Linked DNA regions of Homo sapiens. The protein of the gene in region 1 purifies or fractionates together with the protein of each later gene. This does not show direct contact. Each region holds a gene or a part of one and is shown in the gene's direction. Other genes may lie near its edges.

The links.
Region 2: the proteins of DEFB135 (region 1) and TMEM67 purify together in Homo sapiens (affinity purification with mass spectrometry; one large-scale study listed by BioGRID and IntAct). This does not show direct contact.
Region 3: the proteins of DEFB135 (region 1) and LRP1B purify together in Homo sapiens (affinity purification with mass spectrometry; one large-scale study listed by BioGRID and IntAct). This does not show direct contact.
Region 4: the proteins of DEFB135 (region 1) and SP3 purify together in Homo sapiens (affinity purification with mass spectrometry; one large-scale study listed by BioGRID and IntAct). This does not show direct contact.

What each region holds. Positions count from the first base shown.
Region 1 is NC_000008.11:11,979,799-11,986,197, forward strand, and holds DEFB135 (beta-defensin 135 precursor), read left to right. Parts: upstream 1-2,457; 5' UTR 2,458-2,522; coding exon 2,523-2,586; intron 2,587-4,622; coding exon 4,623-4,792; downstream 4,793-6,399. UniProt on the Homo sapiens protein: Has antibacterial activity.
Region 2 is NC_000008.11:93,782,394-93,787,018, forward strand, and holds part of TMEM67 (meckelin isoform 1 precursor), read left to right. Parts: intron 1-1; coding exon 2-67; intron 68-2,828; coding exon 2,829-2,985; intron 2,986-3,829; coding exon 3,830-3,953; intron 3,954-4,625. UniProt on the Homo sapiens protein: Required for ciliary structure and function. Part of the tectonic-like complex which is required for tissue-specific ciliogenesis and may regulate ciliary membrane composition.
Region 3 is NC_000002.12:142,123,392-142,128,016, reverse strand, and holds part of LRP1B (low-density lipoprotein receptor-related protein 1B precursor), read left to right. Parts: intron 1-4,625. UniProt on the Homo sapiens protein: Potential cell surface proteins that bind and internalize ligands in the process of receptor-mediated endocytosis.
Region 4 is NC_000002.12:173,957,749-173,962,373, reverse strand, and holds part of SP3 (transcription factor Sp3), read left to right. Parts: intron 1-4,625. UniProt on the Homo sapiens protein: Transcriptional factor that can act as an activator or repressor depending on isoform and/or post-translational modifications. Binds to GT and GC boxes promoter elements. Competes with SP1 for the GC-box promoters.

The sequences.
Region 1 (6,399 bases):
CTCACCTTGAATTGTAATAGTCCTGACCTGTGAAGAGTGGGGCCAGGGGGAAGCCATCCTGAAGGATTTTCCACAGGGCAAATGCATAAATCAATTTCAGTTTTATAAAAGGTCATTTTGGTTACCAAGTGGAGAATAAATGGTAAATATCTAAAAATGATATGGGAGCCATTTAAGAGGCCATTTACTGAGTTTGGTGACAGAGGTGATGGCATGGACGCAGTGGCAGCAGTGGAGATGGAAATGGGCGAGTGTGAAACGCATGCTGAAGGCAGAACTGGGAACGTTTGACGAGCAATTCAATGTGGACAGGGTGAGGGAAAGGCGGTGTCAGGATCATCTCAGGTATCGTTCAGGAGATTGTGAAGTGGGGCTTACTTGTCCTCTGGTGTGTGGAGCCTGGGTCAATGAACAGCTTCCAGTCACCAAGGCTGCCAGGAAGCAGTGTCCTTAGAGAAGGACCTAGCATTTTGCCAAGACACAGAGATGGAAGAGTGTTCTTGGGGAAGACATAAAGTAGAAGGTATGTTTATAGTAGAACTGTGGTTCTGGACGGCACAGTGGGAAGGGTTGAGATGGAGACAGAGGGAGTTTCTTGGAGAACAGAAGATCAGGACCATGGCAGCTGAGAGAGTGCAAATCAGGCTGTGCCTAATGCTGCAGGTTGGAAAGTGGGTCTCAGGAGAGTCCCTTAATGCATTTGTGCTTGCTTAATCTTTTCTCTTTGTGCTCCTCAAAACTCAGGTCCTCTATTCTTTCTCTATTTACTGATTTTCTGCTCTGCAGTTCTTTATGAGTCTTTCACAGATGTGCAATCTCAACCACATCGCAAACATCCTGAAGTTGGAAAACAAGAGTCCATTGAAGTGGCATACATTTGATGCATTCTTGTGAATAAAACAGGGACAGAGAGAGGGAAGCATGTGTTCCTAGTCCTGGCTATTTCACTCTCTAGCTGGAGAAGCAACATGTCTAGTTTTATTTCTTTAAATAGAGAAAGGGGTCTCACTATGTTGCCCATGATGATCTTGAATGCCTGGCCTCAAGCGATCTTCTCATCTCGGCCTCCCAAAGTGCTGCGATTACAGGCACATGCCACCACACCTGGCCAATATCTATAGTTTTAAATGTCTTCTTCTGTTACATGAGTCTAATAGTTCCTTAAATATATGTTCTATATGTTCTATAAAGGACTGGCCTTAAGAGTTACTTCATTTGGCCTTGCGACAAGCCTTCCTGATAGGTGGGAATGATGGAGTACAACCTATTTTTTGTTGTTGTTGTTGTTTAAGACAGAGTCTCACTGTGTCACCCAGGCTGGAGTGCAGTGGTGCAATCATGGCTCACTGCAGCCTTGATCTCCTGGGTTCAGGTGATTCTCCCACCTCAGCCTCCTGAGTAGCTAGGAGTACAGGCGCTCACTATCATGCCTGGCTAATTTTTGCATTTTTTGTAGAGATGGGGTTTTGCCATGTTGCCCAGGCTGGTCTTGAGCTGCTGAGCTCAAGCAATCCACCTTCCTCAGCCTCCCAAAACGTTAGAATTATAGGCATGAGCAACTGCACCTGGCCAGGTGTACAACCTTCTTTCCAAGTGAGAAAACTGATGGTCAGTGAGGTAAAGTACGTGCTTTATTAAAAGCTTGTCAAGCTACTGCATGCAGAGTCCAGACCAGAAAGACTTTCTGATTCTGGGTTTTGTGTTCTTCATACAGTATCAGATAAAGTTGCTGAAAAACTTAAAACACTTCAAAAACTGTCAAACACTGTCGACTTTAGTCCCTCCAAGCAAGACTTTTGTCATAAATTCTTTGTATGCCCCCCCATTACCCGGCACACAGCATATGCTCAATGGGGAGCCATAGACTCAGTGTTTTTCCCTGGGTCATGTTGCGGGTGTTATGGGGACTTGCTTTTTCCATGCTGTTTTTGAGGAGCTCTTATTTTCCTAAAGACATTACAGCTATACCAGAACTGGGCAAGGCCATACTTTAGTACTTCTGTATATAGGAGTCAGGGAAGCCTGCTTATAAATCATGTTGCTACCATTTAGGATCTATGTGAGCTTGAGAAAGTCATTTCTTCTACCTGAGACTCTTTATTTTTGTTTTTAAAATGGAGAGAATCATGCCTACCTGGACTTCGTGTGTGTGTAAGGTTGAAAAAAAAAACAAACTCTTTGTCAACTATGTAAGGCAGCCTTATGGTTCTCTGCACACTATAGGCATTTTAGTGGATGTACAATGAAGATACACAGACACCTACACAGCACCCTACCAGGGCCTAGAATAGGGCTGCCTACACAGTGTTCATGCAGTTGCTAGCATGCATGTGGCACCCAGGAAGTGTGCTTTAATGAAGGGATGTCATGTTCAAACAGACATTTTGCTGATTGGATTGCTCAGTGGAGCAGGCAGATGTTCTTGTTCCAAAAGGTTCACTAGCCATGCAGCTCCCCGTCTCTTCAAAGCTGCGGAGAGAGTGACTCTCCGATGAGTCACAGCTGCTTCTTTGCTGATTGGTATGGCCACAAGGAGCGTCCTCTTGGCCCTCGTGGTCCTTAACTTACTCTTCTATGTTCCACCAGGTAAAATGGAGTCCCCACCTTGTAGAATTAGGAATAGTAAAGGGAAAAAAGGTGTGAGGTTCTACAAGAGTGAGAAAAAGGCAGGACTTGGACAAAGGAAGCTGCAACAGGGAGGAAAGTGAGCAGAGATGGACATGCTGGGCTGGTCCAGAGAATGGAGAAAAGATCCAAAGGACACAGAACAGGAGGTAGCTCTCTTCAGAAAAGAAACTGGTTATGGATTTTGGTTTGAGGAGCTGGTGAAGTTTGAGGGGAAGGCTGGACTGTTGGTACTGGCAGAAGTAGGGCAGAGCAAAAAGATGAGACTTTCAAAGAATAGCGAGGACTTGGGGATGAGAAGGAGACTGTTCTTTGAGGGCTCTTAGAACTTGCCTTCTACAGTCAGCCACCCATGTTATTTTTCACTCATTTAGAAGCCAAGGTAAATTTTATGCTGAGCAGAATCCACAGACACAGCTGGTTAAGATGTATTACACTAACTTATAGCATGATGAGGTCCTATGAAACATCAGTTTGAGAGGTCAGAATTTACATTCTGTGGACAGAAGCCAGCAACTTGGTGATAATGAGAAGAGTCTACTTCAGTCACTAAAGTGGAGGTTCTCAAAACTGTTTTGCTTGTGGTTTTCTGGGGTCAGCAGAGAGCCCCTACCCTTTGCCTCAAACCTTCATATATAAAGCGTATCACTCAAGGACCAAGTGTGAAGTGTTTAAAAGACAGATATGAGGCTGGGCGCGGTGGCTCACGCCTGCAATCTAAGCACTTTGGGAGGCTGAGTCGAGTGGATCACCTGAGGTCAGGAGTTCGAGATCAGTCTAGCCAACATGGTGAAAACCCGTCTCTACTAAAAATACAAAATTAGCCGGGCATGGTGGCGCATGCCTGTCCCAGCTACTCGGGAAGCTGAGAAAAGAGGATCACTTGAACCCAGGAGGCGGAGATTGCAGTGAGCTGAGATGGTGCCATTGCACTCCAGCCTGGGCAACAAGCGTGAAACTTCATCTCAAAAATAAAAATTAAAAAAAATAAATAAAACGAAGACAGATACGAATGAGGACCATGTTGAGATGATGGCTGATGTCCTGCATGGTGGGACCTCCGACACTTTGCAGTGTGTCTCTACTGGACTCCTTTGTCCCCAGAAAAGTGCCTGAGGTCTAGGGAGCACATGGTGGGCAAGTTTGCCTGCTAACGGCCCTTGACCATACCACATTGATTATTTTCACACCACAAAGGTTCAATCCATGGACTCATGGGGGCACCTGGGTGGAGAAACTGATAAGACTTAGCATGCAAGAGCAGGTGATACAGTAGGGGCAACTCAGGGCCACCCTTACCCTCTTAAACTGCCTTCCTATTACCCCTCCTCCACCCTCTGGTTTCCAGAGGCTCCCAGTTCTTAAGGTGTAGAAAAATTACTAGCAATAAATTTCCATATTTGTCTCAGGTATTTCAAACCATTTCACACTCATTCTCCCATGGGTGCAAAGTACCCATGGGAGAATGGGTACTTCTTAAGTACCTTGTGATTAAGCACTTGACAAAAAGTCATGCAGAATGTTTTTGGGGAATACAGGGGTAGAAGTGCAGGCTTCTAAAATTCCACTTCAGTGATCCTTCTTTCTTTATGCTGACACTTTGATAATCACAAACTGCCTCAGGTAGCTATTCCAGACCCTGCATGCCTCCTGGTATGGGACCTCTGCAGGCTCCTGGGATGACTTCGATGTCTGAATATTCTTTCTGAAGCCAATAGTCTCAAGCTGAATATGCTGGGTCCTGTTAACTCCACACAGTTGATCAGTAATTCATGTAACTAATTGTGGATTCATATAATGGCTTATAATAGGGCCCCTGGAAAACAAGGTAAGAGCAACTGAAAAGGGGCATCCAGCTATAAAATGTCTTGAGTATCTTTGATCGCGTCTAATTCATTATTAAAAAGTGAAAACTATGGTCTGAGGTCTAATTTTATCCATGACAACATGACACTTCAGGACACTAACTGTGCATTAACCTTTGTTTCTCTTGGCAGGTAGAAGTGGACCCAATGTCTACATACAAAAAATCTTTGCTTCATGTTGGCGACTGCAAGGTACTTGCCGGCCAAAATGTCTAAAAAACGAACAATATCGTATTTTGTGTGATACTATACATTTGTGCTGTGTAAACCCAAAATATTTACCTATACTGACTGGGAAATAGTTGTGAGTACCTGAAAGCTGTTGCTGATTTCCTCTGGGAACCCAGATCCCTCTCAGTTGCACCATTCGATTAAAACAATGGCTTTAGCCTATCAGTGTTCCTGTGTCTGCTGTATTTCTCTTTATTGTCTCTCTTACAGAAATACTCTAATTCCTTGTATTGAGTATTTTTCTTTTTATTAATTTGTCGCTTCTTAAAAGTCTCTTAAGAACTTTTTGAAGTATAACATACAATTAAAAAATGTACAAATCATGAGTAAACATCCTCATGAACTGCACAAATTTAACACACCTGTGTAACCAGCATCCTGCCCCCACAAAAGAATGTTACAACATCCCAGGCACTACCAGTCACTACTCCACACAAAATAATTCCTAGCCTGACTTTTAATAGGAAGGCGCTGACATCTATTTTTGAACTTTATATAAATGGAATTGTAGGTATTCCTTTGTGTCTGGCGTCTTCCCCACTACATTACTTTTGTGAAGTTTATTAATCTGTTTCATGTAATTGTAGTTTATCCTTCTCAATGGCATACTGTAATACATTGGGAAAGATATTACAATTTATTTGAATATTGTAAGTGAAGATGGTCTTATTTGTAGTTTCCAGTTTTCACTTTTATAAATAGGGTTGTGGTGCAGGGATTTCTGTGGGGGTTATATACCTAGGAGAGAAATTCCTAGGGCACAGGCTATGCATACATTCAGTTTTAGTAAATACATAGCATCTGATTGTTTTCCAAATTGGTTGTACCAATTTATACTCTCATCCACAATGTGTGAGCATTCTTGTTGCTTTACATTCTTGTCCACATCTAGTATTTTATGCCTTTAAAAAGATATTCTAGGGAGAATATAGTGATGACATATGGGGTTTGATTTGTGTTGCATGGATGACTAATGAAGCTGAGCACCTTTTCAGATGTTTATTGGCCATTTAGATATCCTTATTTGTGATATGACCCTTCAAGACGTTCGTCCATTTTTCTATTGGATTGTCTAACTTGGGAACCTACTAATGAACACTCGTGGTTTGATGTTGAAAACAATGAAGTGAAAGTCATATTGAAAATATTTAAGTTGAAATATTGAGTATGTTATAGTTTGCAATGGACAAAGACGTTTTGTGCTATTTAGGATGACCAGGCCATAAAAATGTTTCTATCCTTGAAAAATTAGGAATGCTTTTCCAAAATGGTGGATTAGAGGAACTGCTAGCATACCTCTTCCACTTGGAAGGACAAAATAGTGTGTACAGATTCACGTTGTGAACTATTTTTCGAGAAGCAACGCAATAACTGAACAGGAAAACCATAGGAATCTATTGATGTTTTGAAGGAAGCAGGAGACTGCAGCCTACACTGAGTCAGTCGAAGGGCTGCGAGTCCCCTGAGTGTGACAGAGTGAATTTGCCTCTGGGATACACATCCCCACTAGGGATCCTGAAAGTCCAGGACACAAGGTGGGGGTGCTGGCGGGGAAGCCCTAACCCGAACTAACGCAGGAACCGACTTGGGGATGGTTATGGACTATAAACTATTCCATACTTTTAGGGGGAGACCCTTGCATGCACTTCCAGATCCCAGCGTAGATTAAGTGCAGCCA
Region 2 (4,625 bases), about 82 Mb from region 1:
GCTTTGTCCAGACACAGAGACAAGGCTAAATGCTGCTTATTCATTTGGAACAACCTACCAACAAAATGTAAGTTTGAACGATATTAGTCTATATTTTAGCTTTATTTTTCAAAATATCATGTCAGCAGTAATTGGAATAATACTTAAATTTTTGAGATTGGAAATTTTTTATTCTTGGTTTTTTTTTTTTTTTTTTTGAGATGGAGTTTTGCTCTTGTTGCCCAGGCTGGAGTGCAGTGGTGCAATCTCAGTTCACCACAACCTCCGCCTCCCAGGTTCAAGTGATTCTCCTGCCTCAGCCTCCCGAGTAGCTGGAATTACAGACATGTGCCACCACGCCCAGCTAATTTTTTGTATTTTTAGTAAAGACAGGGTTTCTCCATGTTGATCAGGCTGATCTTGAACTCCCCACCTCAGATGATCTGCCCTCCTCAGCCTCCCGAAGTGCTGAGATTACAGGCATGAGCCACCGTGCCTGGCCGGAAATGTTTTTAATAGTGAAGAATAATTTCACTATTTAATATAATTTTTTATTACCTGGGTACATAAAAGCTTAATTTAAGTGGCATAAACAGAGCACCTTGTTATCTATAGAGTTTTTTGTTTTTTGAGACAGAGTCTCGCTCTGTTGCCCAGGCTGGAGTGCAGTGGTGCAATCTCAGCTCACTGCAATCTCTTGCCTCCTGGGTTCAAGCAATTCTCGTGCCTCAACCACCTGAGTAGCTGGGACAACAGGCATGTACCACCACACCCAGCTAATTCTTGTGTTTTGCATAGAGATGGGGTTTTGCTGTGTTGACCACGCTTGTCTCAAACTCCTGACCTCAACTGATCCACCAGCCTTGGCCTCCCAAAGTGCTGGGATTACAGGTGTGAGCCACCTCGTCCGGCCTAGAGTCTTAAACATCATATAATATTACATCTTCATAATAAATTGTTTATCTGCTTCTAGGCTTATAGGTCTTAAAAAGTAATGCTTACTTCTGAGCATTTTGAAATAAAGTAAAAATACTACTTTTTTTAAATGACTAATAAAAAGTTACTCCCTTCTTCTACCCGCTCATAACAAATAAAAATAATTCCTTCATCTTCTTCCATTCTTTTCTTTCTCCTTCCTTCTCTGACTTTCCTTACTTTGATACCTATTTTGAAATTACATTATTTTACTAAGGAATATTATGAGCCATTCAATACTTGAAAAACATGCATGTATTAGTCCGTTCTCACGCTGCTAATAAAAACACATCCGAGACTGGGTAATTTACAAAGGAAATAGGTTTAATTGACTCACAGTTCACTATGGCTGAGGAGGCCTCAGGAAACTTACAATCATGGTGGAAGGGAAGCAAACATGTCCTTTTTCACGTGGTGACAGGAAGAGAAGTACTGAGCAAAAGGGGGAGAAGCCCCTCATAAAACCATCAATCTCATGAGAACTCACTCACTATCATGAGAACAGCATGAGGGTAACTGCCCCTATGATTCAATTACCTCCCTCCGGGTCCTTCCCATGACACATGGGGATTATGGGAACTACAGTTCAAGATGAGATTTGGGTGGGGACACAGCCAAACCATATCAATTCATTAGTCTGTAAAAGTACATCTTGATAAAGTTCCACGCACAACCATAGAACAAAACCATAACAAAAAATACCATTATGGAAAGTAGATTGGAAGAATCTACTAACAGTGGTTACCTCTGGATAGTGGGGTTAGAAATTATTTTTTTCTTTTTTATAATTTCCAAATTTTCTACCATGAACATGAATTTACTTCTTTTGTCAGAAATGATTTACACGTTGTTGTTGCTGTTGTTGTTAAAATAAATGTTATTGTGCTTCTAACATAGGCCAGAAAGATCAACACTTATGTAATGCCTATCTGTGTGCTCAGCATTTTATCGTTATTATCCCATTTGATTCATAAAATAACTATATGAGATACATAGTATCTGTGCTTCACAGATGAGGAAATTATGCCGTGTAATTAGGTAATTTACTCAAAGACTTGTGTCACATAAACTGTGGAGCCAATGTTCTATCATCAGGTTTAAAAAGCATTTTTATTTCTTTGAACCTGGCTAACTCTCAAGTCCTTCATAGACTAGTGGGCAAAACAGTTATATAGACAAAGAATTGCAAAGAATGTGATAAGTGTCATTCTATAGGTATGTACAAGGTACTGATTCCTGGGGAAGTATAGAAAGGCTTCACAAAGTAAGTGATACTTGGATTTGTATAATGAATATGAGTTTTCCAGAAGAACACAGTGGGGAAGGAAATATCAGACAGAAATCACATTTGTAATGACAGAGAGACATACAGTAGTATGGCATATTTAGAAACTACAAGTAGATTAGTATGAATGGACCACCATAGACTGATAGGGAGTAATGAGAGATAAGCCTGGCTTGGTTAATGGAAGCCAGATCATATACATCATTGTACAGCAGGAGAAAAAATTGGGAATTTATCCCGTAGGACAGTAGTTTTAAACCTTTTCACTGATGTACCCTTAATATTGAGAATGAAGGTATACCTCCTTCATCTGAGTTGAAGCTCAAGAAGTTCTCAAAATTCTCAAAGCAGTACTTTACTGTTAGTGGTTTTGGTCCTTATAAAATAATCATAGTATTCATGTTTTGGAAGACAAATGAAAATGCATATAAACAAGGTAGTATAAAGACATTTTGCAAAACTAGAAAAACACTCTGAAGATAATAAATATGCTTGCTAATTTTCAATTGTGATCTTTTATTTTATTTTTTACTTTTTAGTACTTTAAGTTGCTGTTTTATGTGCTTTTATTTTTAATTTTACTTTTCAGTGTGAGATTCCTATCTCTAAGATCTTAATTGACTTTCCCACTCCTATATTTTATGATGTGTACCTTGAATATACTGATGAAAATCAACATCAATATATTTTGGCTGTGCCTGTGTTAAACCTAAATCTTCAACATAATAAGATATTTGTGAACCAAGGTAAGACATCCATACATACCACTCTTTTCCCTGAGCAGAAATCAACAAATAAGTTAACCTACATGATAATTTAATAAACCACTGATTATAAGAAAGGTCATGAATTCTCTCTTATGTGGTTCTATACAGTGTGCCAAAAAATGAAACAATAAATTGCTGGTGGACTTAGAAACTGTTGCTAATTTTATTGCCAGACATATTGTTAAGAAATTATACTGTTGCTGAGGGTATATCCTGAGAAACATTAGTAGAACCGTAAATTGGGGCTTTTTCGTCAAGCTGTCCCGAATATGCTTTTTTGGACAAATTAGTTTCTTTTGTTGTTATTCATGTTATAAAATTCTGCTTTTTCAGGTAATTTGCAGGGGAAAGCCTTCCAAATTTATGAAAAGTTCAATCAGAAGACATTCAAGTCCAAGGCACGGTGGCTCACGCCTATAATCGCAGCACTTTGGGAGGCCAAGACGAGAGAATTGCTTGAGCCTAGAAATTGAAGACCAACCTAGGCAACATAATTAGAACTGGTTGCTACAAAAAAAAATTTAGCTTGGTGTGATGGTGCACCCTTGTAGTCCCAGCTACTCTGGAGGCTGAGGTGGGAGGATCACTTGAGCCCAGGAGGTTGAGAATGCATGCAGTGAGCCATGATCATGCTATTGCACTATAGCCTGGTCAACAGAGTGAGACCCTGTCTAAAAAAAACAAAAGAAGACATTCACATGAGTTAGAGAACGCCATTGTCAGGTGTTTCTTATACTAGTAGCTTTTTGCAGCCATCTTATCTAAAACAATAATTTCATGTTTTAAATTTGTGCAGTAAACTTTTTTCTTTTTATAATAAAAGACAGCAACTCTGGAAAGTGGCTTCTAACTCGGCGCATTTTCTTAGTGGATGCAGTAAGTGGACGAGAAAATGACTTAGGAACTCAGCCAAGAGTAATTCGAGTTGCTACTCAAATATCACTGAGGTAAACAAATGTCTAATGATATTATTTATGGGAAAATATCATAATGGAAGTGTTTGCCAGTCATTAGTAGATGAAAACAATAAGGACAACTGAATTGGAACAGTTGGTCGGGTTATTTTAGGTGTATGTGTAGATTGGCATAGACCAGTAAAAGTGAATAGCCAAGGGGGAAAACTATAACAGAAGAGTGTGAGGAGTTAGGTCAAAATGCACATTATAGGTCCCACTCTAGACCTGCTGAATTAGAATGGGTTGCGAATAGCTAAGTAAATACCAGTGAGCTGAAATTGGTGTTTCAGGAAGAGCTTGCCAGATGATTGTTAATGTTTAGGACTCCCCTGTCCTCATTTCTTTCAGTGGCTTTTGTTCTAGGTTTACCCAGATTAATTTTCAACACCTCCCTCTTCCTAGGATAATCTCATTATGATCCTACGTTAGGATAGTACCTCGCCACTTAAATTTCTCTTTCTTTTCCAGTGTGAGATCTCTAAAATCTTAGTGACTTTCCCACTATAATATTTTATGATGTGTACCTTGAATACACTGATGAAAATCAACACCATCATCTCACAGTAGTTTGGTACTTTGAAGTACTTCAATATACTTATTTTTCAGTTATTTCATTTTGATTCTCATAATCTTATAAACAGTGCAGAAACTTTGTTATTTATC
Region 3 (4,625 bases), on another chromosome or scaffold:
AGGAAACATCTTTGTAACTCTTAACAGCCAAAATTGGAAGATAAATCAGATTCACTTAGAATCAACTAATTTGTCATATAACAATGTCATATCATATCAAAGTATTGCTTGATAAGGATTAAAACTTAAAAGGAAGTATATCTTAAAGTGTCAAATTTTCTGAAAAGGGATTGAGAGGCCTAATGCTAGTCTGTGTTAAATTCTCGAGTATGATACAATGTGGAGACACATTTCCAAATAATTAAAGTTCATGCTGTTATAGTCATTTTAATGTATCTGTATAGAAAACCATCAAACAATGGCAATTAAATGTATATCAAAATTTTAATCTCCCCTCAAAGAAGAATGAACTGCGATTTATGTCTCTTCATATGCCACAAATAACATTAAAGTTTTGTTTTGAAGAGGTTGCTAATCTTTGAATTTGTTCTCTTTCTCTCTTCTCAAGCTCAAATTTAAACTGAGTGAGAGAGAAAAGAGAAAATGGAAAAGGTAAAGAAAGAATTTAAATGTGCTAAAACAATAAGAAAGAATGTGAATTGCAGAAAACAGAATTCAGGAGGAAAAATGGAGTTAAGAGAAAGCTGAAGATAAATTTAGGAAAAAGATGAATGGATGGATGGATGGATGGATGGATGGATGGATGGATTCTGCCATACATCAGAATCTGAATCAGTATTTCTTGAATAGGTTAAAATATCTTTAGACAAAATAATTTCTTAAAATGTTTTTATCTCATTATTAAAAACATTATATGAAAATATTTACAGTATAAAAATAATTTAAGGAAAGTGCCACCAGTGTGAATCTGAATATAATTAGACCTCTAAGAATGGAGAGAGACATGAGAATATTGCAGAAAAATTAAATATTAACTGTGCTAGAATTACAAATATGGAAGTGATTTTTTAAAAATGTAAGTGAAGGTAAAGGAAATTTTCTTAGAAAGGGTGCTAGATGAGTGATATGGTTAATGTATTCTTAGGACTTAGATGACACTTTCTAAATGCTGCTTGTTTTTCAAGGTGGAGGTATGCAGAAATACTTAGTTTGCAAATCTATTGGATCCAGGACATTAGTTTCTTGCCAGTTACCTTGTCAATTTCTTTTCTCAGCCCAGGGGATACCATAAAAATCAGCTCCATTTAAAGTCACCTGAACTGAACAGGACTTGGTCTTCTACAAGGATTATGATGTTGAGGGAACTTTATGTCTTTTCTCCATTCTATATATGGATCCAGTTTTTTATGTTTCTGCCATTAATTTTTGTATCTTAATGTGAAATGTGCAACTCTCCCTCCCTTTCCTTCAGCATTTTCCTGGTTATAGGAATTCTGTGTAGTAAAAAGTACCAATCAAACATACTGATAGATTTCTCTATCTTCTGTGGCTGTCTGTCAAAACAATTCTTGTACAAAGGAAACACTTGTCTTCATTCTAGATAGATGCATTCAAAGAAAGTAGAATTAATCCTAAAAGTTAAACATGCCTGTGCCAACATGATATCATTCGTCAAACTAAGTTAGTAGTAAGTGGAACCCAACTATACAATTGCCCCCAACCCCGTTTTTAATCTCTCTCTGTGTGTGTTTATGTGTGTCTGTATATCTGCTTTAAAATGGCTTTCCTTGGCACAAACGCCATTAAAAATACCACTCTGGCTTGAAAATTGGTGATGGTTTTTATGAATGAAACTTTTGCTTTTGAAAACTCCAGATAAACATGTCTATTTATCTGGACAAAAAAAAAAGTGAAATGAAAAAAATTTTAAGTTATTTTTTGACTCATAGCATATAATATTCTAATACATTTCGATATAACAAGTATTTTGTTTTAACAGAATCTGACTGTGTGGCAGAAACACGTGTCAAAATTATCTGCTTTTGAAATGAATATAATTATGGTATACCCAATGCTTATAATTTGAAGCAATACATTTAGTAGCAGAATGCTAAAGAAAATAAAGCCAAAGACTGAGTTCCATTATGAATTAATCAGAATATATGCTCAGCCAAACTCCTATGAGAAAATATCTATGTCTACCTTAGATAGTTTTAAAACTTTTCTTAAATTTCTTCAAGAAACCTGGCTTCCCCCATATAATCCAAGAATAATGACCAAAACTATCTTGATGCATAGAAAGGTCAAATAAGAAGGTTTTTCTTTTGGTTTTGGCAGAGGAGGGGGGAGAGTAGGGAAAATTAGCTAATCAAACAGAAAAATGTCAAGGGATGCTTTTTATTTTCTTCTGTGGAGTTGCTATACATTTTCACATGGATAGCTATTCCCAAATTTAACCTGTGTCACAAACCATTGTCTAGAGACATAGAAATGAAATTGCAACAGAGCAATCACAAATTGTATAGTCTATAGGCCTTGGGAACATTCTCCAGTTATTTTATTTTGGATGGAGATTTTTAAAACTTATTAGTTTTTTGGGATAAAATATTATTTAAACAGTAAATAAGACAAAAAATGAAAATATCTCTAAAAATAATTTGAGTTTTTAAAAGTTGGTTTTTGGACTAATTTCCATATGTGAGTTCCACTGGCACAGAATGAGTGTCTTTACCTCACTCACTCAATTTTGAAAAGTATTATACTTGCAATAGTATTGAATCTCTGTTCTGGCTCTTCAGTCCTCTCTCATTTGAATAACATGTCAATCTCACCAAGTACATATGAACCCTCTATTTTAGAGAAAGGAGAATGAAGGATTCAGGAGATTCTGCCATTCAGCACAACAAGTAAGCTTACATCTTCCAAATGTATATGCTGTTTTTTTTCTGTTTGTCTTCTATAATCTGCCCTCACAATTTTAAATCTATATTTTCCTCTTCATAAATGATCAGATGGCCTCCCTTTTTCCCCTGGCATAATTACAAGGCCAAGTTAGAAAGTATGTATTATGTATTGCTCTGTTCTAAATTGAGTGATATTAAAATGTAGAGTCAGTCTCACTCTCTCCATCTCTCTTTCTCTCCATCCTTTCTATTTAGGCTATCTCTATACAAGCCCACATATTTTGACTGAGCTCCCTGACTAAACCAATTGATGAAACTGACTAGTAACTAAATGGAAATCAAAACTATTAAATAATAGCCATACATCCTGTAAAAAAAAAAAGTAAGACTGGTCTTGCAGGAAAAGCCTAAATTGAGATTCTATGAAGAAACAATAACAACAACATATTTCCCTGAAAGAATTATGCAACATATTTCTAGTTTGCAGAGCAAATCATATGTGCTTTTGCTGTTGTGTCTCTCATACTAGGCAAATGAAATATTTTTGGTAGTAACTACATATTTATATAATGGGGTATTATACAAGTTTAAAACACTATTAGAAAATAAATAAGTATTCTGAATTCATTTGTACTCAAAGAGAATTTACTATATTGAAAGTGGAAATTTATTATTTTTCTTTTTGTCTTTACTTTTTAACTGAATTTGTATTTCTCCATTTTGTGAAACATTAAAAAAAACTTAAATATATTCCAAAATGTGATTTCAAAGATTTTCTCTCAATAAAGAATATATATAGTGGAAATCATTCATAAATTGGACAACAGGATTAAATGCTCTTTTAAATATGACTATAATAATTTTCATATGCAGTCACATTAACTTAGTTTTAGTCTACAATTAGGTACCCAATTATGATTTTTAAAAATGCAATGGCATGAATAAATAAATGAGTATACCCATTTGTTGATCTTATTCCCTATTACTTCAAATTTGTAAGTATCCTTAGTGGAAAAGAGTAATGTTCATTTTGGAAATAATCATGTCTCAACATGATTGGGGTCTACTCAAGGGGGAGGGTGGGAGGAAGAAGAGGAGCAGAAAGGATAACTATTGGGCACTGGGCTTAACACCTGGGTGGTAAGATAATATGATCAACAAACCCTTGTTACACATGTTTACCTATGTAACAAACCTTCACATGTACCCCCAAATCTAAAATTAAAATTAAAAAAAACATGTTTTTCTGTTGTTCAATAACTCTACTCATATTTGTTTAATAATGATGTATTGTCTACATTTGGGATTTCTTCTTAAATATTGCAGAATAGTTGTAAATACGTAACGCTTTTCAAAGGTGTCTTTACCTTTAGAAAAGAAAGAAAATTAATTTTGATTAATACATTTGTACCACAGATCCATTTGTTTAATCTTATTTTTCTCAAATATAAGCTCGTATATAAAAGTTTCTCAGATATAAGCTTGTGTATTTAAAAGTTTCCATTTAAACATGAATAATATTATAACTATATCCTTTACAGAAGTTGAGAAAGTACCTTTTCATATACAATTTCTTCCAACTTTGTTAAGAGAAAAATAACCAAAAAAAAAAAAAAACTTCTTGAAGAAGATAGATCATGTTGCCTTGCTAAGATACCGACATTACATTTCATCTCACAATACATTCTTATTAACAGTCAGACATCTCTTCCTGAGTTGCATACACCTCATTGTCCTGACTGGCTTAGCCTTCAGACCAAAGACAGGTATTGTTGAAACATGACCTCATTTTAGTCAAAAGAATATGTTTCTTCTTTAGGTAAGATCAAGGTACCACCTATCGTCTCTTGTTTTATTCTTGCAATCAATAGGACATCCCTT
Region 4 (4,625 bases), on another chromosome or scaffold:
AAAACTACTGCATAAGTAAAATTAAAAAGCAGATTGCTTCTCCTGATCTTTTTTGTATTTCAAATGGAACAAAACTTTTCTTGTAACTGTAATTTGTAAAGTTTAGATATCAGTTTACAGATGGGGGAGGGGAGAAGGAAGGAAATATGGGTGAATAATATGTGTATGTACATACATATGTGAGTCTGAGGCCCAAGGATAGAATACTGTCTCCAACCTTAGCCAGCTGTGGCCATATACTTGTAGGGAAGTTTCCATGCTTCTTCAGCTGCTTTTCTGAATTACCAAATCACTCCTGACAACACATATTCTGCCACATGAAGACGAACTAGAATCAATCTGATAAATCTGAGATTTATCAATCAAATACATCATAATTTGCCAATCATAGTAAAATGAAAATAGTTTTGCCTAAAAAAAAAAAAAAAAAAAAAAAAACCCAAACCATATATTTATGATGTCTGGTACCTGCACCCAAGATTTTTCACTTTGAGTAAAATTGGTAAGACTGGCTTGTGTGTATTTGCCTTAGCAAATAGAAAATTTGCTAAAAATTTATTTTTCCAGTGCAAATATGAACTTAAGACATCTTTTCAGCACATCTTAGAAAAGGAAATTCACATGAGTTCATGGGCTTAGATAATCTTTTATTACTCAAATGACTGGGAATTATGAGAGGTTATAGCTGTGTTTTTAAATAATTGTATTTTGGAATAATTTTAAATTTATAGAAAAGTTGGAAATACAGAACTGAGTAATCTCATACCCTTCATCCAGCTTCCCCTAATGTTAGGATAATGATGATACATTTGTCCAAATTAAGACATGAACATTGGTATGACATTACTAACCAGACTTTGTTTGCGTTTCACCAGCTTTTCCACTAATGTCCATTTTCTCTTCTGGGATCCAGTCCAGGATTCCACATTGCATATATATTGTTGTGTTTAAACAAGTGGAAATATACACATACAGATGAACTTTATGCCAGTTTAGCTTGGTATTTTGAGATTAAAAGGGCCTTGAAAAGCCAATCAACTGTGCTGAAGATTGCTTTTAATATTTGGATTTTGAATTTGGAATTTGTCATAAAAGAGGATCCTAGCCAAGGGTGTTTGGTTACCCACAGTACATTGCTGAAGAAGTCTAGTCATAAAGCAGTCTCGTATATAATGTCGTACAACATGGACTCTGAAAGATGGTTTTATAGCAACGCTCCTTTGTACTTAAGTTGTGGCTAATTTTAGTAGTAAACCAGGAAATAGAAAAAAGTAGACCTTTGTGCAAGTATTAACTTTGACCAGTTTGCATTTATGTGAACTTGTGGATTATTAATTTACTTCATTTTTACTTTAGTGGAATAAAATAAGTGACTTTTATTTTTATTTTTATTTTTTTGAGACAGAGTCTCACTCTGTCGCCCAGACTGGAGTGCAGTGGCGCGATCTCGGCTCACTGCAGGCTCTGCTTCCTGGGTTCACAGCATTCTCCTGCCTCAGCCTCCCGAGTAACTGGGACGACAGGCGTGTGCCACCATGCCCGGCTAATTTTTTTTTTTTGTATTTTTAGTGGAGACAGGGTTTCACCGTGTTAGCCAGGATGGTCTCGATCTCCTGACCTCATGATCTGCCCACCTTGGCCTCCCAAAGTGCTGGGATTACAGGCGTAAGCCACTGCGCCTGGCCTAAAATAAGTGACTATTATGAAAGTGATTGCTTGATCTTTGGTTTAGGTTGTAAATTTAGTGTTCCTTAATTTGGCACATAAATGTTGAGCTAAAAAATAAGTAATAGCTTACTTCAAAAAAGTTATTTTGCCATTATTTAAAATAAGACCTGTGCTGTCATTGTAACTAATTCATTGGGTAGGGTAATTCTATTTGAAGTCTGAGTTCTTTTAGTGCTCTTTGAAGATTTTAAGAAACTTGAATATTTGCCTAAGTTCTTAATTTGTTTCCACCTCAGCTTCACACCTGTTCTTGTTTCCAGTTATACTCCTTCCTTTCCTATTTCTGGCTTTCGTAAAGGCATTCGTGGGAACTAAGTTAATAATCATTTCCAAATGCTATGCAATAGGTGGTGTGAATTTTTTCTTTTTCCGTTTCCACCGGTATATTTGTATGTAGAGAGACTTAGAGTGCCTTAGTTACAACTTTTTACTGTACTAATGCCAACATTCATGTTAGATGGTGTTTTGTTTGTTTTTTGAGAAAGGCTCGCTTTGTCTCCCAGGCTGGAATGGAGGTGTGTGATTACAACTCACTGCAGCCTCAACCACTGGGGCTCAGTTGATCCTCCCACCTCAGCCTCCCTAGTAGCTGAGACTACAGGCACGTGCCACCACGCCTGGCTAATTTTTGTATTTTTTGTAGAGATGGGGCTTCGCCATGTTGCCTAGGCTGGTCTTGAACTCCTAGACTCAAAGGATCCACCTGCCTAGGTTTTGTTTGTTAATTGTCCGGTAAGAAAGGTACTGAGAGAAACACTGGTGGATTTTTAATTTGGTTTGTAAACTTACGTAGACATAGGTTATGTAGAGGATTATCTTGCTTCTAAACCAAATACTAGTTCTCGTCTTGGTTGCCTGTTTTAATTTTTTTTATTTTTATTTTTATTTTTTTGAGACTGAGTCTCGCCCTGTCACTCAGGCTGGAGTGCGGTGGCGGAATCTCGGCTCACTGCAATCTCCGCCTTCCAGGCCCAAGCCATTCTTCCGCCTCAGCCCCCAGAGTAGCTGGGACTACAGCCCCAGAGTCCCAGAGTAGCTGGGACTACAGATGTACACCATGCCCGGCTAATTTTTGTCTTTTTAGTAGAGGCGGGGTTTCATCATGTTGGTCAGACGGGTCTCAAACTCCTGACCTCAAGTGATCTGCCCGCCTCAGCCTCCCACAGTGCTAGGATTACAGGCGTGAGCCACCGGCCCTGTCACGGTTGTACGTTTTTAAATCTCCTTTTATTCTTTTGTTTCTGTAGTGTTTCCAGTAGTCTAACATCAAACATTTTTCAAACTTTTTTTTTTTTTTGGTCTCAGATGATTTTCTAATTTATTCCTCTCCCATTTGGTATTTAGTGTACTTTATCTCTTTTAGTGGTATATTGCTGATGAAATTTCTTTTACAAAGAAATTTGATTGTGCTTTGCAAGGCTTTGTAGTTTTGAAATATTTGGAGCTGATTCATTGTGGAATTGTGGAAATAAATAGGCTTAAAATTGGTTTAGACTTTTTCATAGAAGGCTCTTAATACCTCAAAATTTGTTTTGATCCATTCTGTCATTGTGTTTGCAATGATTTTAAAGTAAAATAACTTTTCATTCAGTAAATATATATTGATCTTACTGAGTGCCAGGAATTGTGCTAGGCTAATTTTAATGGATGTTTTTCAAATCTATTCTCATAATCTTAGCACTCACAATGATCTTGGGATTGCACAGTGCTCAATAGTTTATAAAATTTAATATTTTTCTTCTGATTCTTATGCCCCTGCAAGGTAATGTTTTTCCGGTTGTTGACATGAGAAAATTGAGTTGCTGTAACTCACACAATTCCACAGTGTAGCCAGAACTAGAACTCAGTTCTGAGCTTTTTTTTTTTTCTTGTGTAATATATTGTCGAGTGTAGTTTTGGCATAAATCATCTAGTAGTTTTCTGATTCAATGTGTTTTTTCCATTCCATTTAGAAAATAGGGTATTCAGCAAATTTTTTTAAAACTGCAAATTTATTAAATTAAAAAAGTTCCTTTTCTTGCTTGATTCTTTTCCTTAAATTACCTGTTGCTTTTTTTTTTTTTCCCCCATCGTTGTGCTTCACAGGTATTTTAATAATGCTTTTCATTTCAGGCTTATTCAGAAAAGTTCGGAATACATCACTTTGCTCTAGGTTTAGAGATTTTCCTTCAATTAATGGCCTGAATTGCTGAGAAAAATGGCACTACAGTTTATTTTTATCTAGCTTCTGGAGAGGGGATGACTTGGGCAATATTTACTCAGATTTGTCATTTGCGTTAGCTGTATTTATTTTCAAGGAATTTCTTGACTAGAAAGCTGTTCAGTGATGGTTGAATATCTGCCTTTATTACTATTTTGTAAAAAAAAAAAAAAAACACTTTAGGTGCTGTAAATTTGACTTTGTTTTTTTTAAAGAAAGGAAAAGGGACAAAATGCCAGTATCATAAAATTAATTTGTGTCTGAGTTACTATATTCTTTGATAAAAGTTCAATACCTGTAAATTTTATGCTGGTCAGAAAAAATTTCAGTGGATCCTCCAGGTGAGCAATAACCTTAAGAAGATAAAGGTTAGATTTTAGACACACTTTAGTGTAGATTTTAGTATATAGATTTAAATATTTGTAGTTTACTTAAAATGCCAAGAGACCGAAATGAAACATTTGTCACTGTAATGTTAGGAAAGGTGACTTAACATTGTAATTTCTATACCAGATTGAAGTTGCAGAGTGACATGTGACTTTAATGTCTGATGCTTCATTTTAAAATTGTTTAGTAAATATAATTTAAGTGTATTTAAGACAGATCGCTATTTTATAGTTCAGGCCTAGAGATTTGTATTGGGTTCCACAATTTCTCAGCCTTTAGTCTCCTCCCTTTCTTTCAGTCTCCTTCATTG